4 linked regions of the Homo sapiens genome follow. The protein of the gene in region 1 interacts with the protein of each later gene in a biochemical or structural test. Each region holds a gene or a part of one and is shown in the gene's direction. Other genes may lie near its edges. The genes, in order: DTL, CHEK1, CUL4B and KMT5A.

Region 1 (7,028 bases):
TACCCATCCTTGAGCGTAGGTTGTGTTTTTCCATTTGTTTGTGTCATCTGATTTCTTTTAGCAGTGTTTTGTAGTTTTCCTTGTAGAGGTCTTTTACTTCCTTAGTTAGGTATATTCCTAGGTTTTGCAGCTATTGTAAAAGGGGTTGAGTTGTTGATTTGATTTGCAGCTTGTTTGCTGTTGCTGTATAGCAGTACTACTGATTTATGTACATTGATTTTGTATCCTGAAACCTAACAGAATTCATTTATCAGATCTAGGAGCTTTTTGGATGAGTTTTTAGGGTTTTCTAGGTATACAATCATATCATTTACTAACAGTGACAGGTTGACTTCCTCTTTACCAATTTGGATGCCTTTTAATTTCTCTTTTCTGACTGACTGTGGCTGGCTAGGGCTTCCACTACTATGTTGAATAGAAGTGGTGAAAGTGGGCATCCTTGTCTTTTTCCAGTTCTCATGGGGAATGCTTTCAACTTTTCCCCGTTCAGTATAACGTTGGCTGTGGGTTTGTCATGGATGGCTTTTATTACCTTCAAGTATGTTCCTTCTATGCTGATTTTGCTGAGTGTTTTCATCATAAAGGGATGCTGGATTTTGTCAGACGTTTTTTCTGCTTCTATTGAAGTGATCATGTGTTTTCGTTTGTTTTTCTCTTAGAGTTTCGCTCTTGTTGCCCAGGCTGGGGTGCAGTGGTACCATCTCAGCTCACTGCAACCTCCACCACCCAGGTTCAAGGGATTCTCCTGCCTCAGCCTCCCAAGTAGCTGAGATACCACATCTGGCTAATTTTTGTATTTTTAGATGGGGTTTCACCATGTTGGCCAGGCTGGTCTCAAACTCCTGACCTCAAGTGATCTGCCCTCCTCGGCCTCCCAAAGTGCTGGGATTACAGGCATGAGCCACCGCACCCGGCCTGATTTTTGTTTTTAATTCTGTTTATATGGTGTATCACATGTATTGACTTGTGTATATTAAACTTTCCCTGCATCCCTGGTTTGAAATCCATTTGATCATGGTAGATTATCTTTTTGATATACTGTTGGATTTGGTTAGCTAGTATTTTGTTGAGGATTTTTGCATCTATGTTCATCAGGGATATTGGTCTGTAGTTTTCTTTTTTGTCATGTCCTTTCCTGGTTTTGGTATTAGAGTGATACTGGCTTCATAGGATGATTTAGGGAGTATTCCCTCTTTCTCTTTTGGAATGGTTTCAGTAAGATTGGTACCAGTTCTTCTTTGAATGTCTGATAGAATTCAGCAGTGAATCCATCTGGTCCTGGACTTTTTCTTCTTGGCAATTTTTTTATTACCATTTCAATCTAAGTGCTTGTTATTGGTCTGTTCAGAGTTCTTATTTCTTCCTGGTTTAATCTAGGAGGTTGTATATTTCCAGGAATTTATCCATCTCCTCTAGGTTTTCTAGTTTGTGAGCACAAATGTGTTCATAGTAGCCTTGAATGATCTTTTGTATTTCTGTGGTATTCGTTGTTAATATTTCCTGTTTCATTTCTAATTGAACTTATTTGGATCTTCTCTCTTCTTTTCTTGGTTAATCTCACTAATGGGCTATCAATTTTGTTTATCTTTTCAAAGAACCAGCTTTTTGTTTCATTTATCTTTTGTATTTTGTTGTTGTTGTTTCATTTTTATTAAGTTCTACTCTGGTCTTTGTTATATCTTTCCTCCTCCTGGGTTTGGGTTTGGTTTGTTCTTATTTCTCTAGTTCTTGAGGTGTGACCTTAGATTGTCAATTTGTGCTCTTTCAGACTTTTTGATGTAGGCACTTAATGCTGTGAACTTTCCTCTTAGCACTGCTTTTGCTGTATCTTAGAGGTTTTGTTAGGTTGTGTCACTTTTTTCATTCAGTTCAAAGAATTTTTTTAATTTCCAGCTTGATTTTGATTTCATTATTGACCCAAAGATCATTCAGGAGCGGATTATTTAATGTTGCATGGTTCTAAGAATTCCCTTTGGAGTTGACTTCCAATTTTATTCCACTATGGTCTGAGAGAGTACTTGATATAATTTTGATTTTCTTAAATTTATTGAGACTTGTTTTGTGGCCTATCATATGGTCTCTATCTTGGAGAATGTTCCATGAATGTTCTGATGAATAGAATGTATATTCTGCAGTTGTTGGGTAGAATGTTCTGTAAATACCTGTTAAGTCCATTTGTTCTAGGGTATAAGTCCATTGTTTCTATGTTGACTTACTGTATTGAAGTCCCCCACTATGAGATGAGATTCTATTTTTGTGTATTTCAAGGTTTTGCTCTAAGATTTAGAACTCCTTTTAGCAGTTTTTGTAAACTATGCTGGCTTGGTAGTGGCAAATTCTCTCAGCGTTTGAAAAAGACTTTCATCTTTTCTTCATTTATGAAGCTTAGTTTCACTGGATACAAAATTCTTGGCTGATAATTATTTTGTCAGCTAATAATTATTTAATAAGGCTAAAGATAAGACCTTTATCCCCTCTAGCTTGTAGAGTATCTGCTGTTAATCTGATAGGTTTTTCCTTTACAGGTTACCTGATGCTTTTGCCTCCCAGCTCTTAAGATTTTTTCCTTCATCTTGACTTTAGATAGCCTGATGACTGTGTGTCTAGGTGATGATCTTTTTGTGATGAATTTCCTGGGTGTTCTTTGAGCTTCTTGTATTTGGATGTCTAGATCTCGAGCAAGGCCAGAGAAGTTTTTATTCTTTTGCCTTTGTCTTTGTTGAATTGGGTTAATTCAAGAGCCTTGTCTTTGAGCTCCAAAATTCTTTCTTCTACTTGTTTGGTTCTATTGTTAAAACTTTCCAGTGTATTTTGCATTTCTCTAAATGTGTCTTTCATTTCCAGAAGTCATGATTGTTTTTTATTTATGATATCTATTTCTCTGGAGATTTTTTTCGTCTACATCCTGTTTTGTTTTATTTTTAAATTTAAGTTGGTTTTCATCTTTCTCTGGTGCTTCCTTGAGTAGCTTAATAATTGACCTTCTAAATTCTTTTCTGGCAATTCAAAGATTTATTATTGGTTTGGATCCATTGCTGGTAAGCTAGTATAATCTTTTAGGGGTGGTTATAGAACCTTGTTTTGTCATATTACCTGAATTGTTTTTCTGGTTCCTTCTCGTTTGGGTGGACTATGTCAGAAGAAAGATCTGGGACTCAATGTGTGCTGTTTAAATTCTTTTGTCCCACAGAGTGATCCCTTGGTGTGGTGCTCTCCCCCTTCCCTAGGGGTGGGGCTTTCTGAGAGCTGGACTGCAGTGATTGTTATTGCTCTTCTGGGTCGAGCCACCCAGCAGAGCTACTGGGTTCTAGGCTGGTACTGGAGAGTGTCTGCTAAGAGTCCTGTGATGTGATCTGTCTTCAGGTCTGTATGCCATGGATACTAGCACCTGCTCTAATGGAGGTGGTAGGAAAGGAGTGAAGTGGACTGTGTGAGAGTACTTGGTTGTAGTTTTATTTAGTGTACTGGTTGTCTTGAATGCTAGTTATACTAGCACTGAAGTTATTACATGGACAGACTCAGGACCTCTCTGGTTGGCCAAGATGTTACAGGCAGTAGAATTAGCTGTTATTTTCTGCTTTCTTGGAGCAGGGTTGTTCTGTTGAATTGCTGTAATGGCTTGAATTGGTTGGCCTCCAGCCAGGAGGTGGCACTTTCAAGAGAGTATCAACTGCAGTAGTATAGCGGGGGATATAAGCTTGCCTTACGGTTTCCTGGATAGGTTTTCGGGCTTCTCAGGCAATGAGCAGGGCCCCACGAGTTTTTGTCTTTTGTTTACGGCTACCAGGGCGGTTAGAGAAAGACCATCTGGTGGGGGCAGGGATAGTGTGTCTGAGCTCAGACTCCTTGGGCAGGGCTTGCTGTGGCCTCTGGGCGATGGGAGTGGTGGTTAACAGGCCAATGGAGTTACGTTCTAAGGGAGATTATGGCTGCCTCTGCTGCTTCATACACATCACCAGGGAAATAGGGGAAAGCCGGCAGTGACAGACCACAGCCAGCAAGGCCAGTCTCACTCCTGCAGTGCTTCCCCAACAGCCAACAGAACCAAATTTATATCCATGCCTCCAGTGCACAGGGTGGAGATCTTGCCCTAGACTACAAAACTCCCCGCCGAGAAAGCAAGCAGGGCTGTTAGGCCTTGTCCATCTGCCTGCCACAGCTTCTGTGCTCATATCTGCACTTCCTATTTGTCCCATCCCCCTGCAGATTCTGCCCAGGAAAATTCACGCTCAGTTGAAATCATTACAAAGTTCAGCTGAAAGTCTCCTTCTCCCTATGGTCCTTCCCCAATTCCATTGGCTGCCCTCTCCAAAGACCCCTGTGAGATAGTCAGAAATGGTTTCCCTGGGGACCAGGAGTGCCTACAGGGCTCTTCCTGCTGCTGCTTCTACTTTTATATTTTGTTTGGCTCTCTAAATTCATTTCAGTTCTCCTTCTCCCATGATCTGGATCCTCAGTGAGGATGTGTGCAGAAGTGGACTTTACCCCTCTCACACTGTTTTTTGTTTGTTTGTTTGTTTGTTTGTTTGTTTTGAAACGGAGTCTCGCTGTCAGGCAGGCTGGAGTGCAGTGCATGCGATCTTGGCTCACTGCAACTTCCACCTCCCAGGTTCAAGCAACTCTTCTGCCTCAGCCTCCTGAGTAGCTGGGACTACAGGTGCACACCACCATGCCTGGCTAATTTTTGTATTTTTAGTAGAGACAGGGTTTCACCATGTTGGCCAGGCTAGTGTTGAACTCCTGACCTCAAGTGATCCACCCACCTCGGCCTCCCATAGTGCTGGGATTACAGGCATGAGCCACCACACCCAGCCACCCTCTCACACTTTGGACCTTGAGAGCTTGTTTGGAGGTTCTAGCAGGGGAGCACATTTACTCGTATACCCTTGACTGAAGACCGATTCTCCTCTTATCAGGAATGGTTGTCCTCTTCGACCAAGCACACAGCTTCGGGAGCCCTCTCACACTTTGGGCACTCAATTTTTCTGCTGTCTTGTGGATTTTGCAGCAGCAAGCCACTTCTTTCAAAGGATCTGTTAATTCTTTTGTTTTTTCTGGTATGTTCCTGTGATAGTTCTTGGAGCCAAAGTTCACTATGTGAGTCTCCACATGCTGTTCTGTCTGTCTGAGTGGCAAATTAGTCCTGCCTCCTATCTGCCACTTTCCCCTTAAATCAGTCTCATTTTTGTAAAGAAAAAAGTTGAGATGTATAGTATGTATCACATGCACAAATATAGAAAGTATGCTAAACATGGTTTACGTAAGTGCTTTAAATTTTTTCTCTTTATGTTTTTCGGTATTTTGTCGATTTTTACAAGTATATATTTTATAATGGGATAGTTGGGAGGTTGGTGACTTGGAAAAGAGAAAGGAAAATGATAAAAGGGTGTGGTTGGAATCAAGTGATGTATACCTACTTACTGGCAAATTGACCCTTAGATGATTAGGTTAGCTATGATTTTTCTTGATGAGAATTTAGGGACTTTGTATGGCTTTCACTTCTGATCTTCATGATCCTCTCCTCTTTTTCAGTAACAGTAACGAGTAGCCAGAGTACTCCTGCCAAAGCCCCCAGGGCAAAGTGCAATCCATCCAATTCTTCCCCGTCATCCGCAGCTTGTGCCCCAAGCTGTGCTGGAGACCTCCCTCTTCCTTCAAATACTCCTACGTTCTCTATTAAAACCTCTCCTGCCAAGGCCCGGTCTCCCATCAACAGAAGAGGCTCTGTCTCCTCCGTCTCTCCCAAGCCACCTTCATCTTTCAAGATGTCGATTAGAAACTGGGTGACCCGAACACCTTCCTCATCACCACCCATCACTCCACCTGCTTCGGAGACCAAGATCATGTCTCCGAGAAAAGCCCTTATTCCTGTGAGCCAGAAGTCATCCCAAGCAGAGGCTTGCTCTGAGTCTAGAAATAGAGTAAAGAGGAGGCTAGACTCAAGCTGTCTGGAGAGTGTGAAACAAAAGTGTGTGAAGAGTTGTAACTGTGTGACTGAGCTTGATGGCCAAGTTGAAAATCTTCATTTGGATCTGTGCTGCCTTGCTGGTAACCAGGAAGACCTTAGTAAGGACTCTCTAGGTCCTACCAAATCAAGCAAAATTGAAGGAGCTGGTACCAGTATCTCAGAGCCTCCGTCTCCTATCAGTCCGTATGCTTCAGAAAGCTGTGGAACGCTACCTCTTCCTTTGAGACCTTGTGGAGAAGGGTCTGAAATGGTAGGCAAAGAGAATAGTTCCCCAGAGAATAAAAACTGGTTGTTGGCCATGGCAGCCAAACGGAAGGCTGAGAATCCATCTCCACGAAGTCCGTCATCCCAGACACCCAATTCCAGGAGACAGAGCGGAAAGAAATTGCCAAGCCCGGTAAGTCAGCAGTGGTGGGAAGATACATTTCCTAACTTAAAAGGGGCCAGACACCCAGATGTCTCAAGTCAGGATGCTTTTTTTTTTTTTTAAAGAAAGAAATCTATTTATTCCTAGTGCTGCCAAATTCAGCACATAAATACAAAACAAATTTTGCATGGGCCATATTTTTAGTAAAAATGTTTTATGCTAAGAAACTATTTTTGTTTGTCTGAAATTCAAATGTAACTGAATGTGCTGTATTTTATCTGGCAACTCTACTTACTCCCATTAAAATCCCTCCTGTCAGGGTCCATACTCCTCAGCCCTGTTGCCTGATTGACCAAAGCCTTCATCATGCTCCAGGATATCAATTCAAAAATATCTCCCCTCTCCTGTTAGACAGTATGCCATCCTCTTTTTATAGATAAAGCTGTTGTTCATGGGAAAGTTGCCAACATCCATAAGTAGATTTCCAGTTTGTAATTCCATTTTGTGATTATTTAAAATACAGTGAAACTTAGATACTTACAAAACAATTTGAGTGCAAAATCTTTCTAGATTTTTATGACTTCTCCACAATCTTTTATAATCATTTTGCCACACCACAGTAATACTTTTGACACCTATATCTATTCTTTTTAACATTCAGTGTAGTGTCACTTATCTTTTTAGGACTCATTT
Region 2 (7,028 bases), on another chromosome or scaffold:
GAGATGGGGTCTCACTATGTTGCCCAGGCTGGTCTTGAACTCCTGGGCTCAAGCAGTCCTTCTGCCTCAGCCTCCCAAAGTGCTGTGATTACAGGCCTGAGCTGCCATGCCTATCCTGATTCATCTATCTTTGAAGTGCCTCTAAAGTTTCCAAGTTGGGATTCTTAGTGTGAAAACCATATTGAATTAATTCAAAGGAAACTTTTCATGGATTTATATTATTATTTTTCCTTGAAATCTTTATAATAAGAACATTTAAAAAAACTGGGACTTGCTTTGTTTTTAGAATTGCCATGGGACCAACCCAGTGACAGCTGTCAGGAGTATTCTGACTGGAAAGAAAAAAAAACATACCTCAACCCTTGGAAAAAAATCGATTCTGCTCCTCTAGGTAACTGAATTATCTTGAGTGAAAGAGTACCGATTTCTTGGATATGAAGTCTTGTGCTATTTGAATTTTTTCTTACTTTTTTTTTTGTTTTAAACTTACAAATAATTCATGTTCGTTGTAGATAAAATAGTAACTATAAGTAAAAAATTAAGGAAAAAATAACTCTTTAGTCCCAGAACTCTGCAATAGATTTTTAAAAATATTTTGGGGAGTGTATATTCAGAGCAACTTGAATCTGCTCTTAGATGGCTTTTTACTTAAAGTTTTCATATGTGCTATACTTTGTTGCAAATACACTCGTTTGTTGCTTAATTATAGGGATGCACTCTAACAAATGTTTCATTAGGTGGTTTCATCATTGTGTGAACATCATAGAGTATATTTACATAAATCTAGATAGTATAGCTTACTATAAATCTAGGCTATTTGGTATACCCTATTGATCTCAGGCTGCAAACCTGTACAGCATGTTACTATACTGAGCACTGTAAGGAATTGTAACATAATGGTATTTGTGTATCTAAGTATAGAAAAAGTATAGTAAAAATACAGTATTATAATCTAATGGGACTGTCTGTTATACGTGTGGTCCATTCCTGACTGAAACATCATTAATGTGGCCCATAAGTATGTAAAATGAATATATGTATATTATTTATATGTGTTTTTATACAAAATGAGATCACACTAATAATATTTTGTAACTGTTTTTGGTTTTAGTGCGCAGCGAACATTCTTCCATGACTATAATTGTAGGTCTACATCGTTGGTTTAAAGGCTGTGATAATATTCTGCCATGTGGATATGCCTTACTTTACTCTTTTAATCACTTTGTTGGAGATTTTTCTAAATTTTCACAGATACAAAAGAGATATAAGTATCTGTGTAACTTAATCATGACACATACCCTTAAATTGTTCATTGAAATCCCCAGAAGCAAAATTGCAGGATCAAGGATGTAGTTTTTATTATTATGGCTTATTTTGTCAAATTGCTTCCCGAAAGTTCGAACCATTTCATCACAGTCTCATCAATTTACATTAAGGAAAAAAACTTTAAATAATAGTTTTTCATTTTTATTTTAAATTTAATACTAATGAAGTTGTATACCCTTTATGTATGTATTAGTTTTTTGTCTATTTTGCTCATTTTTGTCAAGGATATTGTTTTTCTTACCACTTTGAAGCTTTTTTTTTTCCTTGATAACACATTGACCTTTGCACTTGTTACAAATACTTTTCACAATTTATCATTTATTTTCATTTTGTTTTGCTATATTGACATTCAAATCTATTATCTTGTCCTTTGTGGTCCCTGACTATAATTTCTTTGGAAAGGTCTTCTACCTCTACTATTTAAAAGTTCCCTATGTTTTCATTTAGTGTTTTTATGGCTTCATTTTTCCATTTAAATCTTTGGTCCATTAGGAAATAATCTTCACATAGGAAGATACGTGAATTTTTTCTCAAGAAAATTAAGATACCTTAGGATGGTTAGTTAGATTACTGTCTCTTAAAAAGTTATTGGTAAGTAAATGTTCATTATAAAACTGTGTGAATAAGGAGGTCACGTGAGAACATGACATTGAAGTAATGAAATTCGGTATTGAAAATGGATAAGAGGGGTTTCTGTATCTTTTTGTTAATCTCGTCACATGAGGAGAAACATTTCCATCTGGCTCTTGTTCTCAGTTGCAAACAATTGAGAATCAGATCAGGGAAGACTACTCCAAGATACAGCAGCAGAGAAAAACTGCATGAAATTAAAGCAGTAATTTAGTAGCTTTAATTCTTTCTCTTCCCCAGGAATAATATTTAGACATAAGTAGGCTAACAGAAAATGTGTTTCTTACCTCAAGCCATAGGCTTCTCTAACATGATTCTTTCGTGAATGTTGTCGTAATGTTTGTTTTTAGCTCTGCTGCATAAAATCTTAGTTGAGAATCCATCAGCAAGAATTACCATTCCAGACATCAAAAAAGATAGATGGTACAACAAACCCCTCAAGAAAGGTAATATCCTTAAACTACAAGTTTGTTTGTTTTTCTGTGGAAGAAAAGGTAATTGCAAAGTTATTATCACAAGTCAACAACACATGATAGCTATGATCTCTGTCCTCATGGAGATTATAATGTCCAGTAGAAAAAAATACAGAAATAATTTTGTTTATTAATAATTATAAAGGGGAAAGTCAGGGTACTATAGCTAAGTGTTTGACCAAGTCTAAGGGACAGGGAAGACTTTTCTTCCTGAAGAAATTACATTAAATCTAAGATTTGAAGATTAAAGGGAAGCTAGGCAGGCAAAGTAAGTGGCAGATTTGATTCTGAACAGGGGAAGCAGTATTTGAAAAATCTTAGATTTTAGAAAGTCTGATGCTTTTGAGAAACTTGAAAGATCAGTATGGCACAAGCCGTGTCTGTTGTGTTCATCATTGTATCATCAGTGCTTTAGCACAGTATATGGTGCACCATAGGCACTCATTAAATATTTGTTGAGTGAGTGAACAGGGAAGTGGGAGAGGAAGACAGGTTTGAGATGAGGCCAGAGAGGTCGCTAGTGGCCAATTTGTGGAAGAAGACCTTGTAAGCCATGTTAAGGATTTTGGGCTTTAACTTAAGACCACTGGGGAGACCTCTGAGAGATTTTAAGCAAGACTATGACATAGTCATATCTTCGGTTTAAAAATATTTCTCTGACTTCCTTATTTTTTTTCCATTGTTTTTTATGAATAGGGAAAGATTCAGGGTGCTGTAGGTTTTTCTGCTAGTTGTCTAGAAGTGGGAGGCTGGTGGCTTGGAATAGGTTAGGGCAATGGTATTGGAGAAATGAGATGATTCCAAAGAAATTTAAGAACTAGTATTGATAGGACTGTTAGGCTGTGAATGGAAGGAGAGAGGACAATGACTAGAGATGATGAATGAAAAACATTCAGAGAGTTATTAATGTTTAACTCTGTCCTCATGGATAGAAAAGAGTTAATGTTTAAACATTCACTCTTCTTTAATACCTCTCTGCATGTTTCTTCCTCCTTGTCCTAACTTAAAGTCCAATTCTCCCCTGAGGACACTGCTTCCTCTGAAGCGGTAGGTGTTTTCTTTCCCATACCCTCATGTCCTTTGATCTGGACATGGTACAGGTGTCCTCCTTATTCTTCATTGTCACTTTCTCCCATCTTCCTTTATGTCTCTCCCCTCTAACTTTTGAACCCCAAATTAAAATTTCTGCCGTACTATCACAGTCTGCAAAATGACTCTTGATGTTATTTTCGTCATGATTCTTGGTGATTTAAATATTTATTTGGATCATCCTCCTGATATCCTGACTTCACTGTTTCTTGACCCTCTCTCCTATAGTGATGTTGTCTTTGAACACGCTGCACTGATCACCAGTATAATTTTTTCTGACTTCCTCCCTTAATATTCTAACTTAAACAGTCCTTTGTATCTGGACTTGCAATTAATTAATTCTATCTCTTCAGTCTCTTACCTGCTCCCTCTCTAGGTCCTTGATTTCATCTTTACCTATCTTAAATCTTTAGGTTAGTCATTATAAATGACTGCTTTGCGTTCATCATCTTCAATTTCCTTGTCCCCTTCTCTCTTCATCATACTTAGTGGGTAAAACCCAGTAAGTAGTTTCTGGGTTTAATCTAGTAGTTTTCTACGTACTGCACACTTGTACCTGCACAACAGATTGCAGCAGGAGAAAAATACCCAAAAATGTTCACTTTAAATTCAGGATTACTAATCTCAAGTGGGCCCTTAATGCTTCCTGGCATTTGGCCTTCGTTTCCCCACATCTTTCTCTGTCCTGTTCTCCTAAATCACGTTTTTATAATACTTTTCTCTTTTTTTTTTTTTTTTTTTTGAGACAGGGTCTAGGCTGGAGTGCAGTGGCGCCATCTCCACTCACTTCAACCTCTGCCTCTCAGGTTCAAGCGATTCGATTCTCGTGCCTTAGCCACCCGAGTAGCTGGGATTACAGGTGTGAACCACCACACCTGGCTAATTTTTATATTTTTAGTAGAGGTTTTGCCATGCTGGCCAGGCTGGTCTCAAACTCCTAGCCTCAAGTGATCCCCCTGCCTCAGCCTCCCAAAGTGCTGGGTTTATAGGTGTGAGCTACTGTGTCTGGTCCCTTAACTTTTATTATCTTCTCTCCATCCTCACTCTCAGTTGTTCACTTTGCTTCCTGTGTCACTGGGAAATGAAAGCCACAAGAGAACTTAGGCAAGCTCCCACCACCATCTCCTCCATACTAACTGCCTCTATGCTCATGTATTCTCTTTCATCCTGTATTGCTGTAGATAAATTGCTCTGGATGTAAGCCAGGTCTTTCTCTTACCCACTCAATGACTTTGTCTAGCAATTTTTCTCCCTCTCCTACATTATTAATTTTTCCTTCTCTACCGGATCTTTCTCATCAGCATATCTACATGCTTTTTCTCCCATTTTAAAATCAAATCATAATGGTAATAAAATTTCTCTTAACTCCACTTTTCCCTACCATTCCATCTTCTTCACAATTGAATATTCCTAAAATTGCTTCTCATCTCTAACACCTCAAAACTAGTTTTCAATTTCATCTATTTTGTTGCCAAGAGTCACAGTGATTTTTGGAACGTGTTGCCAAGTTCAATGTAATAGTCCACTGTGGTCAACCGAGGTCTGAAAAGATTAAATGGAAAGTACCAGAAGTAAACAATTCATCAATTCATGGGTTTTGGCCGGGCGCGGTGGCTCACGCCTGTAATCCCAGCACTTTGGGAGGCCAAGGCGGGCGGATCACGAGGTCAGGAGATCGAGACCATCCTGGCTAACACGGTGTCACCCCGTCTCTACTAAAAATACAAAAAATTAGCCGGGCGAGGTGGCGGTCGCCTGTAGTCCCAGCTACTCGGGAGGCTGAGGCAAGAGAATGGCGTGAACCCCGGGGGGCGGAGCTTGCAGTGAGCCGAGATCGCACCACTGCACTCCAGCCTGGGCAACAGCGAGACTCCGTCTCAAAAAAAAAAAAAAAGAAATTCATGGGTTTTATTTATTTATTTAATTCGAGACGGGATCTCGCTCTGTCGCCCAGACTGGAGTGCAGTGGCGTGGTCTCCACTTACTGAAACCTCTACCTCCTGAGCTTAAATGATCCTCCCATCTCAGCTTCCCGAGTAGCTGGGACTACAGGTGTGAGCCACTATGCCCGGCTAATTTTTGTATTTTTGGTAGAGATGAGGTTTCGCCATGTTGCCTATGCTTTTCTACCAAAAATACAAAAATTAGCCAGGTGTGGTGGTTCACGCCTGTAATCCCAGCTGTTCTCAAACTGCTGGGCTTAAGCAATCCACCCACCCCGGCCTCCCAAAGTACTGGGATTATAGGCATGAGCCACAATGCCCTGCCATAGGTTTTAAATTGTGTGCTGTTCTGAGTAGCATAATAAAATCTTGTGCTGTCCTACTTCATCTCACTTGGGATGTGAATCACTCCTTTTTCCAGTGTATTCACGTTCCATGTGCTACCTGCTTGTAACTCCCTTAGTAGCTGTTTTGGTTATTAGATCGAAAGAACATATATAGGGTTTGGTACCATTTGTACTTTCAGGCATCCACTTGAACATATCCCTCTGTGGATAAGGGGGGTACTACTGTAGTCAGTTCTCAGACCTCTTGTTTTATCTCATCAATATTTTATACAGTTGATCATGCCCTCCTCCTTTAAACACTTTCTTCATTTGGCTTCCAGGCGTTACACTCTTCTGATTTTCGTCCTTCTCACTGGTCGCTCTTTTCAGTCTCTTGATGGTTTTTTTTCATCTGCTCAGCCTCCTACTATTGGAGTTCTCCAGGGCTGAATCTATGGATCTCCTTTGTTTTCTTCTCCACACTCACTCCATTAGTGATATTACTTGGTTTCATGGCTCTAAATAAAACTATATGTTGATAGTCACATTTATATCAACCTAGACCTTTCCTCTGAATTCCAAACTTACATGTCTTAACTGCCTTCTGAAATTTCACTTGAATGTTAAGAGGCATCTCACACTTGATGAATTCCAAACTGAGTTACTGATCTTTTCCTTTCAAACCCATTCCTTTTCAAAGTCTTTCCCATGTTGGTTAATGGCAACTGCATTATTCTTATTATGCAGATCAGAAACTTTGGAATCATCCTTCATTTTTCTCATTCTCTTTTACTTCACATCCAGTACACCAGCTAATTCTGTTAACCTCTATCTTTAAAAAAATCTTAGAATCTGATTACCTTTTTTTTTTTTACCTCTACTGTTACCCTATCATTCCAAATTACCATGATATCTTTCCAAAATGTTCTGATTTAAAAGTGAATTAGAATATATCACTATTCTACCCAAATCCTCCAATGCTTTAGTTCTCACGTGTAGTGTAAGCTAAAATCAGTTCATGACCTGTGAGTTCTTACACAATTTTGTTCCTTACATTACCTCTCCAACCTCAGTTCTGCTTTGCTCCCCCTTGGTCATATTGTTGTTCTTCTTATTGTTCTCCAAGTGCTCTAGGCACACTTCTACCTCACTGTTTTTGTAGTGACTGTTCCTATGTCTGAAAATGCTTTTTCCCATGGGACTTATTTGCATGTCTTATTCTCTTACTTTCTTTGGATATT
Region 3 (6,633 bases), on another chromosome or scaffold:
TCCCATGTTGATGCATATGATTTCCAAAAAAAAAAACTTTGTTGGCATATGTGGGCAGCAGTGACAAAAGGGAAAAATAACAGAAAAGCCTGGATACCTGAAAGTTTAACTGCTAAATGAGTGTTTGAAATTTTCAAGTTTATTCACTATATTTCTTTTGAACTTCTTGGTTGGTTATTTACTTCTTTTCCTCTTGAAATACCATGGTATTTATTGAAATACCATGGTATTTGACAGATTTAGTTATTGTGGATTGAGTTAAATCTCCTGTTTAGTTAGCTTATATAAGAGATCATCTGTTAAAAACCATACAGATAACTAGTCATGATTAAGCATCTTTTTGAAAAGTGTAGTGATAGTTCTGGTAAACTGAAATTGGTCATTAAATGGAAACGTTCCATTGTGAATGACCAATAATAAAGTCACTTAATGTGATGTTGTACTGGCCTTTTTTCCAAGTTTTAGGAGGTAGATAGCCAAACCCTTGGATGATAAACATTGATAGAGTTTGAATAGACTGCTAGCTATTAGGGTTCTTATGAGCTTTGGACTTTCATAAATCACTTCACCATGCTGATCTTGTTTCCTCTTTTGTAAAACTGAGATAATAATAGTACTTACCTTGTAGGATTATTGTGAGGTTTAAGTGAGATCATGAATGTAAAAATCTTAGCACTGGACCTGGTACATAATAAGCACTCGGTAGCTCTTAGTTCTAATAAGGTAAGCATTTTCTTTTCTCCAAACCTAATATCGCACTCCTCATTACCACCCTCTCACCCTCATGCTCTGCTTAATAGTCATTTCACCTCAAGCCAGAGAGATCACTGATGCTGGGGAAATTAGGGGATCGCTGTAGTTAATATTGTGCTGATATTCTAGGTCTTTCACCATAATTAAGAGAAGTCATCTGATTTCCCAACCTTGGGATTACTGGATAAAATTTTCACTGCTGTATCAGACTACTTCCCCTCTTTTCCCCTCTTGAACAAGTGGTCATTTTACTTATCCTGAAAAACTTTCTATTAGCAAACAAGATTATATTATATTTACAGACTAGATACATAAGATATATAGTGGAATTTTGTCATCCAGGAGCTTAGAATGCAATCATGAAGATAAAGCTACAAGCTTTCTTGATTACTTTTAAATCACAGGATGCAGAAATCCAAGTCACTTAGATGCACTAAACCAGAAATATGAAGATCTAAATTATGAGGTACTTCATTTATCAAGCCATTTCATGTAGTTTTTTTTTGAGATGGAGTCTCGCTCTGTCATCCAGGCTGGAGTGCAGTGGCATGATCTTGGCTCACTGCAGCGTCTGCCTCCCGGGTTCAAGCAATTCTTTTGCCTCAGCCTCTCGAGTAGCTGGGACCACAGGTGCGCACAATCACGCCTGGCTAATTTTTGTGTTTTTAGTAGAGACGGGGTTTTACCATATTGGTCAGGCTGGTCTCGAACTCCTGACCTCATGATCTGCCCACAGCCTCCCAAAGTGCTGGGATTACAGGCATGAGCCACTGCACCTGTCCAGTATTCTTTTAAATAGTGATTTTTTTTTTTTTTGAGATGGAGTCTTCTTGCTCTGTCACCCAGGTTGGAGTGCAGTGGCGCGATCACGTTTCACTACAACCTCCACCTCCCGGGTTCAAGCAATTCTCCTGCCTCAGTCTCCCTGGTAGCTGAGACTACAGGCGCCCACCACCACACCTGGCTAATTCTTGTATTTTTAGTACAGATGGGGTTTTGCCATGTTAGCCAGTCTGGTCTCAAACTTCTGACCTCAGGTGATCCACCCATCTTAGCCTCCCAAAGTGCTGGGATTACAGGCATGAGCCACCACACCCGGTCTAAATAGTGATTTCATCAGTACGTTTTAAATCTTAATTTATAAAAATGAAGCCAACTAACTCTTGCCCAAAGTAAAGGTGTGCTTCATGAACTATCTTGACAAAACTAGTATTCTGTGTCCTTAAACTACCTTACAGTGCTCATGTGAAGTTACAATAAATGTAGTCTTTTGTATTTAACCACGCGAAGGGTAGCTGCTTCTGGCATGACCTCTTTAAAATAGAAAAGTAATAGAAAGTATTCCGTAACAATATGACAAGGATGTGACAGTTTAATGTATGTATAGTATATAGTACAGGTTGAACACCTTTAATGAGAATCCAAAATCTGAAATGCTCTAAAATTGGAAACTTTGAATGCCAACATGATGCCACAGGTGGAAAATTCCACACTTTACCTCATTTGACAGGTTGCAGTCAAAACTTTGTTTCATGCACAAAAGGTATAAAATTATCTTCAGGCTATGTAAGGTATGTATGAAACATAGATGAATTTTGTGTTTAGACTTGGGTCCCATCTCCATGGTATCTCACTATGTATATGCAAATATACCAAAATGAAAAAGTCAGGACCAGGCATGGTAGCTCACACCTGTGAGTACTGGGATTCCAGTACTTTGGGAGGCTGAGGCTGGGGGGATTACTCCAGAACAAGAGTTTAAGGTCAGCCTGGGCGACATAGCAAGACCCTGTCTATTAAAAAAATTAAAAGCTCCAAAAAAAAATCAAAAATCAAAAACACTTTTGGCGTTAAAGAATCTTCAACATACCTGGGCACGGTGGCTCATCCCTGTAATCCCAGCACTTTGGGAGGCTGAGGCAGGTGGATCACCTGAGGTCAGGAGTTCAAGACCAGCCTGGCCAATATGGTGACACCCCATCTCTACCAAAAATACAAAAATTAGCCAGGCGTGGTGGCTTGTGTCTAGTCCCAGCTACTCGGGAAGCTGAGGCAGAAGAATCACTTGAACCCAGGAGGTGGAGGTTGCAGTGAGCCAAAGTGGTGCCACTGCAGTCCAGCCTGGGTGACAGAGCGAGACTCCGTCTCAAAAAAAAAAAAAAAGAATCTTCAACGTGTATAAAACATTTTTTAACCTGGTTTATTTTCATGATACTTTTCTCTAAAAAAGAGATTTAAATAAATAAAAATTTTAAAAAAGGAGATTAAATTCATGAGCCGAAACTGTTGTCTTTTTAATGGGGTATTAACTAAATGGGCTTGAGCCAATGATAATGAACTTTACATTGAAAATTTGCCTTCTCTTACAGCCTGCTGATCTTAAGAAGAGAATAGAATCTTTAATTGACCGGGACTACATGGAAAGAGATAAAGAAAATCCAAACCAGTACAACTATATTGCATAGAATGTTGGCCTTGCAGCATTTGGTGTCATATGCAGTAGCCAGTGGATAAACTAACCTGTTGATTCAATATTATTTGACTCCTTTTTTACTACCGATGACCAAATGAAGCAGTGTAATTAATGGAAATAGTTGAGTGGACTTTTTCTCAGTGGTTAACATGCCCATTTTAAAGAGTAATACTTACCTTTAAGAAGAATGTTGTTGAACTCTTTGCATGTTATTTAGTATGATGTGCAGAAAACACTTAAGAACGTACCTGGTCTTCATGAATTCCTCTTTGGAACTGGGAAAGAGATCCCTGTGGCTATTAAAAAGGGGGGAGGGTTCTTACACACCATTAATTATGAAGCAAAAGGTTTATTTGCTTAAAATGTCATTTAAAGATACTTAAACTGCATGCAAACTTTATTTACTGTACAGAGTTCTGGATGTATTTATCAAATAGAAAAACCACCCTTGACTTGGTTGTTCACCCGTTTTGTGATTTCCCTTGAAAAGAGAAATGAATTGTCATAGCTATTGATATTTTACTAGGTGATGTTCTGTTACACTGAAAGGGATGTTTTTTAAAAAAAATTATTTGGAAACAAGTTTTCAAGTAGGGGGACAGTTGCTTACATAATATCTTGTATATTCACATCCTAAAAATTTTCATTTATGAGTATGGGATGTGTGTATATGGCTTAGCCCCAAGTTAACTGTGCTGATTAACAAGTACTTATAAAAATAGCTAAAGTAGAAAATTAATGATCAGTTGTACTAGAGGAACATCATAGAAGAGAAAAATCCAACTCTTTATATTAAAAATGAATACAATAAGAAAATTGCAAAAGAGACCAAAATGAACGTGTTTTGTAAATTGTTACAGGAGCAAAAACTTTGCAACTAGTTTTCAACATACTTTAGACTTTAAATGTTGTTTGGACAGTTTTGTCTTCAACTTGGACCAATTGTAGATTGTTACAGGCTTCCTAGGATTTAGCATTCCTATTTTCTCTACCAAAGTTTTTTTTAGAAGCATCCCAACTCTTCTCTTTGTTGATAAATAAGCCTTTCCTGTCATCTTCATTTTAACTTGCTAAAACCCTAGATACAAAGGTCCTCCCTCATTTTTCCCACAGAGCCCCTGTTTGGGAATTTGAGATTCTGTGTCATGCTGGTTTTCCTTTCAGAATTGCTTGAAATCGAGTTCTCTTAGCCACTGGACACCTAGTTTTCAGGAGAATGTCCCAAGATTGTTTATATATACAAAATGGCAAAAGTACTGTTTTTCGAATTGATAATTCAAGCAAAGGCTTCTCTTTACTGTCACTGATTTTTTTTTGTTTTTATTTTGTTTCCTTGTTTCTATTTCCTTGAAGCTTTGAAGGGAGGAGAAGCAGAAAATTTTGTTTATGTTTGTTAAAAATCAGAACTACTTAATGCTTTTTGCCACAGCATATTTCCTTGCCTGTTGGAGCCGTTAGGAAGATTACCTATGTCCTAATCTTCAACCTGAGAAGATTTTTGACTCTTGTGTCTACTGTTGATTGTTTGCTTGAGTTCTCAAAGACCTGTGGCCAGGTATTTTAAAAAGTCGTCTATTTCTTTCTAGTTGCATCAACTTGCACACTGGTGTCTAACTATATGTGGTATTCGGAACTTGTAATTCTTATTGAGCAGCCATTGCCTATATTTTCTCAGCTCCTCACTGATTTCTTTATATGAGCTCAGCTGACAAGCAAATGCAGCTATTTTGTTTACCCTCTCTTCATACCGGACCATCAACAACAGTGTTCTAACTCATCCCTGATGGTCTGTGAGATGTAGACTATTACACAAGATTCAAGTTACTCGTAAGCAACTTTTAGATAGAGTTGGTCCTGTTAGGAGGAGACTCTTGATGTCACCTTCAGTATCTTGAAAGCGGGTCCCCTCCCCGAGGCTCTTAATTCTTTGAAAACTTGATGCTGTTTCAGCTGAAAAATTAGCAAGACTGTTAAAAAAAAAAAGTTGAGGGGAGCTGTTTAAGAAACTGAAAAGTAATTGCAAACTACATTGGATAATTGTGACTTTCAGTTGTTGTTCTGTATCAGTTGAATTTTTGTGCTCTTTTCCCTGTGTACGTGGTGGTTCTATTTTTCTCCAATAAAACTTTTATTTAAAAAAAGTTTCTAGAGAAGATCTTTAAAATTCAAGTATTGTAAGAAAGTTATAAAATCACAGGACTTAAAATCTTCCTAACAACTTCTAATGAACTCACATTTGTTGATTTTGTTATTTTTAAACTTTTTAAAAATTTTGTAATGGTTTTGTGGTAATGCTATAAGAGTATGGGGGAGGGCATGGTTAACAGGGTGAGGAAAATTCCCAGGAATCCTCAAGGTGGATAATTATTCTTAAACATGCGGATACAAGTATAAACATTGCTTCATTCAAATCCTCAGTGTCAAATTGTTTCATAAAGTCAATATGAAATGAGTCTAGATTTGAGTTCAGGGGAGAAGAAAAGATTACTCTTAGTTATGGCATTTGCTCTGCCTTTTCTGTTAATAGTTTTTTGAGTTCTGGGCCAGATACTCTCAGAGTAAGATGTTCCTCAAAGTTTTTGAACCCAGTTCCTGAGTCTGCTTGAATGGTCTTAATATGATGTCTAGCCATACTCTTGAAATTTTTGCTGTGTATGTGAGTGTACAGTTCAGAAAACCAGTTTATCTGGGCATCTGGATCTAAAGATTTGAGAAGTTTGTTTTTTAATCTGGATATTCATAAATCTTTTAAAATGAGCTGGTCTTTGTTTTCATGACCACTCTGTTTAATGCTGTGAATGGCAGGAGTGTTGTGAGCGTGTTCTATTCTCTTATTTACATAAAATTGCCAAAACAAATTGTTCATTAAAAAGAAAAGAGCAGTACTGATGAAAATTTGCATAATTATGCTTTGTAAAATGATATCTTGCTAATGCTTCATTAATGAATATTTTTCAGTGTCCTACAAAAAAACACCTGCTTTACATTTGAATACTGAAGTTTGTTCACCTGCAAACACTTGGTTGAAATCAAACACTTTGCTCAATTATTTTCCTTTTTCCCCTTGCTATTATAAAAAAGGGTATTTCTTCTTTTGAATGGACACATAATGTACCTTTATGTTTAACAATCCTTAGAAGTCATCTCTAGCATAGTGAAAAAGACTCTGACCTTTCTTTTGTAAAACCGTTTCTATTGGATGTAAAATATAAGAATGTGCTGCACTGGCATGTTAGAACTTAATAGTTTTGCCAGCTATAACAACAACAGATCCTCTTCATTTGTTCTCTAATTTCAAAACTTTTCTTTAATTTTTAAATTTTTTATTGTGGTAAAGTACACACAAAATTTACCATTCTAACCATGATAAAGTATACAATTCTGACATTTAGTACATTCACAATATT
Region 4 (7,028 bases), on another chromosome or scaffold:
TTAAATCTATTCCACCAATATATATCTTTCTTTTTTTTTTTTTTTTTTTTTTGAGATGGAGTCTTGCTCTGTTGCCAAGGCTGGAGTGCAGTGGCGCGATCTTGGCTCACTGCAAGCTCCGCCTCCCGGGCTCACACCATTCTCCTGCCTCAGCCTCCCGAGTAGCTGGGACTACAGGTGCCCACCACCATGCCCGGCTAATTTTTTGTATTTTTAGTAGAGATGGGGTTTCACCATGTTAGCCAGGATGGTCTCGATCTCCTGACTTCGTGATCCGCCCGCCTCGGCCTCCCAAAGTGCTGGGATAACAGGTGTATATCTTTCTTTTTTTTTTAACCTTCTTGACCCTTATCTTTCATATCTTTTAAGTGGAACATTTTAGTCCATTTATGTTTAAGGTTAATATTGATATGTGAGGTTTTGTTAGGTATATTACTATTAAATAAGTTTATGGGAAGGTTTTTTTTTGTTTTTTGTTTCTTTTTGAGATGGAGTCTTGCTCTGTCTCCCAGGCTGGAGTGCAGTGGTGCGATCTTGGCCTACTGCAAACTCCACCTCCTGGGTTCAAGCGATTCTCCTGCCTCAGCCTCCTGAGTAGCCGGGATTACAGGTGTGTGCCACCACGCCCAGCTAATTTTTGTGTTTTTAGTAGAGACGGGGTTTCGCCATGTTGGCCAGGCTGGTCTCAAACTCGTAACCTCAAGTGATCCACCCACCTCAGCCTCCCAAAGTGCTGGGATGACAGACGTGAGCCACCATGCCTGGTCATGTTTTCTGTTTTTTTTTAAGACAGGGTCTCACTCTGTTGCCCAGGCAGGAGTGCAGTGTCACAGTCATGACTCACTGCAGCCTCAACCTCCTGGGCTCCAGCAATCCTCCTCCTTCCTCAGCCTCTAGAGTAGCTGGGACCAAAGGTGTACGCCACCACACCTAGCTTATTTATTTTTTGTAGGGACAGGGTCTGGATCTGTTGCTTAGGCTGGTCTCTAACTCCTGTCCTTAAGCGATCCTTCCTCCTGGCTTTCCTGAAGTGTTGGGATTACAGGAGAGAGCCACTGCCCCTGGCCTCATTTACATTTTAAAAGACCCCTCTGGCTACCTTGTGGAGAACTGAGTGTTCCCTGGGGTCAGAGTGAAAGCCTGGTGACTAGCAAGGGGGCCGGAGCGGGGCCGGGGCCGTGGCTGGGCTGCAGGGCCGCAGTGGGAATGGAGATGGAGAGGAGGTGGCAGGATTTGGGACTGTCCTTGAGGTTACTCATTCACCATTGTTCCCAGCACAGACTGCAGCGCCTGGCACATTGCAGGTGTGGATTGAGTGCCTGGAAAAGCTGCAAGCTGGTTTGGGCCTCTGTGTAGGGGGAATGGGCTGAGCTCAGCAGTTGGTGTCAGGCTCCTGACACGTGCCATCTGGTTTGGTGAAAGTCTATGCCGTCAAGACATGCTGGTTTGGGGTGAGCCACACTGGTTTGGAGCTTCCGATCTGTCTTCATTTGGTTCCCTTTTGCTCTGTAGTATCTGTGCAGTGGCAGAGCAGTAGAACCCAGGGTTAGGGATGGAGGTAGGTGCAGGAGGGGTGGCCTTAGAGGAGAGGTGGATCCAGGGGTGCCCCCTCCCAGTTCTCTGTTCAGGTCTGTATTGACCCTCGGGATTGGAGGCCCTCTTCTCATCCATCGTGGTGGCCTCCATACAGGTGAATCTCAGCGATCCCAAACAGAAGTATGAGCCATCAGACCAGAGCCATGTGGACTGCGTGTGTCCCATCCAAAGGGCACAGCCTCTGATCTGCTGTACCCGATTTTCTTTTTTCTTTTTAAGGTGGAGTCTTGCTGTGTCGCCCAGGCTGGAGTGCAGTAGCACAATCTTGGCTCACTGCAACCTCCACCTCCCAGGTTCAAGCGATTCTCCTGCCTCAGCCTCCCGAGTAGCTGGGACTACAGGCTCCTACCACACCTGGCTAATTTTTGTATCTTTAATAGAGACAGGGTTTTACCTATTTGCCAGGCTGGTCTCGAACTCGTGACCTTACGATCCGCCCGCCTCGGCCTCCCGAAGTGTTGCGATTACAGGCGTGAGCCACCGCGCCTGGCCCACTGTACCTGATTTTCTGTGAAGTCAGAGGCCTGATTTTCAGGTGTGGGCAAGTTGGACATTTTTTAACGTGCTGCATGGGCAACAGAACATATCTACGAGCCCCATTCTGTTCTTGGGTCCCCACTGTTTCCCTCCTGATCCAGTTGAACCCCAGGTGACAGATCTTCCACAACAGATGGGTGATGAGAAAAGGAGGGATACTTGGGGGCTTTGCCATCACTGGGGACCCATCATCCCCAGTGATGCCAAATGAGGCCGATTGTGGCCCGGTGGGCATGGCCTGGGCAATCAGGGCTCAAGACCATCAAGCTACGCACGATGGGCCTAGGAGAAGATACTGATGCTGTTTTTCTTTCTCTCTGCCCAGTCTGAAGAAAGGAAAAGAATAGATGAATTGATTGAAAGTGGGAAGGAAGAAGGAATGAAGGTAAGGGGCTGCTGTGCTTGCTGCATCATAGCTAAAGCTGGAAGAGCTCACCTTCCCTGGTCCCGTGGCTGAGAGTGGCCACCATGTGGCTTTCACCCTCTAATGGCCATGGTGACCAGGCAGACTCTATTAGGTTGTCAAAGAGCCAAATACCAAAAGTTGTTAAGGAAATGTCTTATGAAGGAAACATAAATGGGCTTTGTATATAAATGTTATCCAGGGGAAGCTTTTCTTAGAAATTGTGGTTAAACAATTCAGTGGCTTTTTGTACATTCACAATGCAATGCAACCATTATCCCTGTCTAATTTCAGAATTTTTTCATCCTCCCAAATGGAAACCCTTACCCATTACTTACCACTGCCCACCATCCCCACCTCTCCCCTGCCCAGCCCCTGGCAGCCACTCAGCTGCTTTCTGTCTCAGTGGAGTTGCTCTTCTGGGCACTTCATATAAATCGGATTATACAATATGTAGCTGATGCCCAGGGAAACTTTTAAAAGGAGAAACTAATACATTTTTAAACTGTTTTCCTAGATAATGACAATGCCCAAGAAATGTGCTTTTCTCTTACTGTATTTCAACCACACTCAGTTTGGGCGAGAGGAGAAGTACTCTCTACAGTGGGGTTCAGATGGGCCTAGACTAGGGCTCCGGGTTCAGAAAGCTTCCACTTCCACCCACCACCTAGGGGGATTCCGGCTTAAGTCCTGGGCCCCTCCAGCAACCCCATTCAACTCCATGTAGAATAGAGTGAGGAGACACAGGAGAGAAATCGTGGAATGAGGTAGAGACCCAGAACACTGGGCCTGCTGTTTGCCTAGGAAGGCATAGCGCATAGCCCCTAGACAGAGAAACCAGGTGTGTGGATTTGAGCTGTGTCACTGTCTAGCTGTGTGGCCTCAGACACGTGGTTGTGCCTCTTTAAGCCTCAGTTTCCTCATCTACAAAATGGGGCAGTCTCCACCTAGCAGATCTCTCACGAGCTCTGATGTAACTGCTTTGCAGATGAGCACCAAGGAACCACGTTTGTGGAGTGAGGGAACGTTCTAGAGCTGGCCTGTAGTGACGGTTGCACAGCTGTATACACTTCATAAAACCCATCAGCCTGTACATGTAAAGTGAGTGAATTTTATGACATGGCTCAGTACAGCTGTTAAAGACTGGGGTAAGCCCCAGCTCCCCGGAGACCTGCTGTGCACAGTGGCATCCATTGCTATTATGAACCAACACCCTCTCTTATCACCTGACAGATTGACCTCATCGATGGCAAAGGCAGGGGTGTGATTGCCACCAAGCAGTTCTCCCGGGGTGACTTTGTGGTGGAATACCACGGGGACCTCATCGAGATCACCGACGCCAAGAAACGGGAGGCTCTGTACGCACAGGACCCTTCCACGGGCTGCTACATGTACTATTTTCAGTATCTGAGCAAAACCTACTGGTGAGTCCACTGTTGCTTAGAGTGGCTTTTCTGTCCTCTGGGCAGTGAGGAGAGGCCAAAGGGCCAGGAACTCCTGATTCTGTTTGGTGGCCAGTCTTTTGGTTTTGTTGTTGTTGACTTTTTTTTTTTTATTTTTTGAGATGGAGTCTTGCTCTGTTGCCCAGGCTGGAGTGCAGTGGTGTGATCTCGGCTCATTGCAACCTCCTCTCAGGCTCAAAGAATTCTCCTCCCTCAGCCTCCAGAGTAGCCCAGCTAATTTTTTTTTTCTGTATTTTTAGTAGAGGTGGAGTTTTGCCACATTGGCCAAGCTGGTCTTGAACTCCTGACCTCAGACGATCCACCCGCCTTGGCCTTCCAAAGTGCTAGGATTACAGGTGTGAGCCACTGCGCTCGGGCTGTTGTTGCCTTTTTTCAAAGCTGTGATGCAATTATCGCCTGCTTCCTTTTTTTTTTTTTTTTTTTTTTTTTTGAATCTCGATCTGTCGCCCAAGCTGGAGTGCAGTGGCACAATCTTGGCTCACTGCAACCTCCACCTCCCGGGTTCAAGGTATTCTGTCTCAGCCTCCCACGTAACTGGGATTACAGGTGTGCGTCACCACGCCCAGCTAATTCTTATATATTTTTTTAGTAGAGACAGGGTTTCATTATGTTGGCCAGGCTGGTCTGACCTCATATGGTCTGCCTGCCTTAGCCTCCCAAAGTTCTGGGATTACAGATGTGAGCCACTGCGCCTGGCCCCAGCTTCCCTTTTTTTTTTTCTTTTGAGACGGAGTCTCGTTCTGTCACCCAGGCTGGAGTGCAGTGGTGCAATCTTGGCTTACTGCAACCTCCACCTCCCAGGTTCAAGCGATTCTCCTGCCTCAGCCTCCTGAGTAGCTGGGACTACACACACATGCCACCATGCCTGGCTAATTTTTTGTATTTTTAGTAGAGATGGAGTTTCACTGTGTTAGCCAGGATGGTCTCAATCTCCTAACCTTGTGACCTGCCCACCTTGGCCTCCCAAAGTGCTGGGATTACAGGCATGAGCCACTGTGGCCCCAGCTTCCCATTTTTAATCTTTGGAATTGGAGCTGTCCTGGATGTTATCTCATCCAAGGGGAGAAGTGGGCTAGTCACATGAAAACCTGTTAAGCAGCTCACCTGGCTCTCCTTCAGGGCATTTGGCCAGAGCAGCTCTGGAAATCACTAATTGATCTTGCCTGGCTAGGACCAGTGGAGTTGAATTTTTTATTTTTTATTTTATTTTATTTTTTTGAGATGGAGTTTCACTCTTGTTGTCCAGGCAGGAGTGCAGTGGCACGATCTTGGCTCACTGCAACTTCCACTTCCGAAGTTTAAGCAATTCTCCTGCCTCAGCCTCCCAAGTAACTGGGATTACAGGCATGCGCCACCACGCCCAGCTAATTTTGTATTTTTAGCACAGACAGCGTTTCACCATGGTGGCCAGGCTGGTTTTGAAATCCTGACCTCAGGTAATCCACCCGCCTCAGCCTCCGAAAGTGCTGGGATTACAGGCGTGAGCCACCGCGCCTGGCGGGGTTGATTTTTTTAATCCATTTATTTTGTGAAACTCTACCATTTCCTCCTGTGCCTCCATAAAGAGCCCTTTGGGTCCTACCCCATCCCCCCACCCAGGGCCTGTGCAGGCTCTCAAAAATAGCTTTGTGGGCCAGGCGTGGTAGCTCATGCCTGTGATCCCAGCACTTTGGGTGGCCGAGGTGGATGGATCATGAAGGTCAGGAGCTCCAGACCAACATGGCAAAACCCCATCTCTACTAAAAATACAAAAAAATTAGCCTGGCATGGTGGCACACGCTTCTAATCCCAGTGACTCAGGAGGCTGAGGCAGAATTGCCTTACCCCGGGAGGCAGAGGTTGCAGTGAGCTGAGATCGTGCCACTGCACTCCAGCCTGGGCGACAGAGCGACGAGACTCCCTCTCAAAAAAAAAAAAAAAAAAAAAAAAGCTTTGCAAATTGAGCCAGACCTGGTGGCTCGTGCTTGTAATCTCAAAAACTCAGGAGGCCAAGGCCAGAGGATCACTTGAGCCCAGGGGTTGGAGACCAGCCTGAGCAATATAGGGAGATCTTGTCTCTACAGAAACAATTAAAAATTAGCCTGATGTGGTGGCATGTACCTGTGGTCAAAGCTACTCGGGAGGCTGAGGTAGGAGGATGACTTGAGCCCGGGAGGTGGAGGCTGCAGTGAGCCGTGATCGTGCCACTGCACTCCAGCCTGGGTTACGGAGCGAGACCCCCTCTAAAAAGGAAAAAGAAAATAGCTTTATGAATTGAATCTTTTCAAAACACATGGCTTTAAATCAGCATCCCACCAGAGCTGAGCACAAGTGTGACTCTCTTCAGGTTGAAAAGCCTCTTTATCCATTTAATCCTCTCTGGCCCTCCTTCCCCTCCAGCGTGGATGCAACTAGAGAGACAAATCGCCTAGGAAGACTGATCAATCACAGCAAATGTGGGAACTGCCAAACCAAACTGCACGACATCGACGGCGTACCTCACCTCATCCTCATCGCCTCCCGAGACATCGCGGCTGGGGAGGAGCTCCTGTATGACTATGGGGACCGCAGCAAGGCTTCCATTGAAGCCCACCCGTGGCTGAAGCATTAACCGGTGGGCCCCGTGCCCTCCCCGCCCCACTTTCCCTTCTTCAAAGGACAAAGTGCCCTCAAAGGGAATTGAATTTTTTTTTTACACACTTAATCTTAGCGGATTACTTCAGATGTTTTTAAAAAGTATATTAAGATGCCTTTTCACTGTAGTATTTAAATATCTGTTACAGGTTTCCAAGGTGGACTTGAACAGATGGCCTTATATTACCAAAACTTTTATATTCTAGTTGTTTTTGTACTTTTTTTGCATACAAGCCGAACGTTTGTGCTTCCCGTGCATGCAGTCAAAGACTCAGCACAGGTTTTAGAGGAAATAGTCAAACATGAACTAGGAAGCCAGGTGAGTCTCCTTTCTCCAGTGGAAGAGCCGGGACCTTCCCCCTGCACCCCCGACATCCAGGGACGGGGTGTGAGGAAGACGCTGCCTCCCAATGGCC

What was found.
Region 2: of the proteins of DTL (region 1) and CHEK1, one has a biochemical effect on the other in vitro, tested with the Homo sapiens proteins (2 studies listed by BioGRID).
Region 3: the proteins of DTL (region 1) and CUL4B form a complex in vitro, tested with the Homo sapiens proteins (2 studies listed by BioGRID).
Region 4: the proteins of DTL (region 1) and KMT5A form a complex in vitro, tested with the Homo sapiens proteins (2 studies listed by BioGRID, with this or other methods).

Annotation. Positions count from the first base shown.
Region 1 is NC_000001.11:212,094,720-212,101,747, forward strand, and holds part of DTL (denticleless protein homolog), read left to right. Parts: intron 1-5,532; coding exon 5,533-6,365; intron 6,366-7,028. UniProt on the Homo sapiens protein: Substrate-specific adapter of a DCX (DDB1-CUL4-X-box) E3 ubiquitin-protein ligase complex required for cell cycle control, DNA damage response and translesion DNA synthesis.
Region 2 is NC_000011.10:125,635,143-125,642,170, forward strand, and holds part of CHEK1 (serine/threonine-protein kinase Chk1), read left to right. Parts: intron 1-286; coding exon 287-391; intron 392-2,306; coding exon 2,307-2,402; intron 2,403-7,028. UniProt on the Homo sapiens protein: Serine/threonine-protein kinase which is required for checkpoint-mediated cell cycle arrest and activation of DNA repair in response to the presence of DNA damage or unreplicated DNA.
Region 3 is NC_000023.11:120,523,346-120,529,978, reverse strand, and holds the end of CUL4B (cullin-4B), read left to right. Parts: intron 1-3,122; coding exon 3,123-3,218; 3' UTR 3,219-6,121; downstream 6,122-6,633.
Region 4 is NC_000012.12:123,401,115-123,408,142, forward strand, and holds part of KMT5A (N-lysine methyltransferase KMT5A), read left to right. Parts: intron 1-2,458; coding exon 2,459-2,518; intron 2,519-3,524; exon of another isoform or gene 3,525-3,637; intron 3,638-3,769; coding exon 3,770-3,960; intron 3,961-6,378; coding exon 6,379-6,589; 3' UTR 6,590-7,028. UniProt on the Homo sapiens protein: Protein-lysine N-methyltransferase that monomethylates both histones and non-histone proteins. Specifically monomethylates 'Lys-20' of histone H4 (H4K20me1).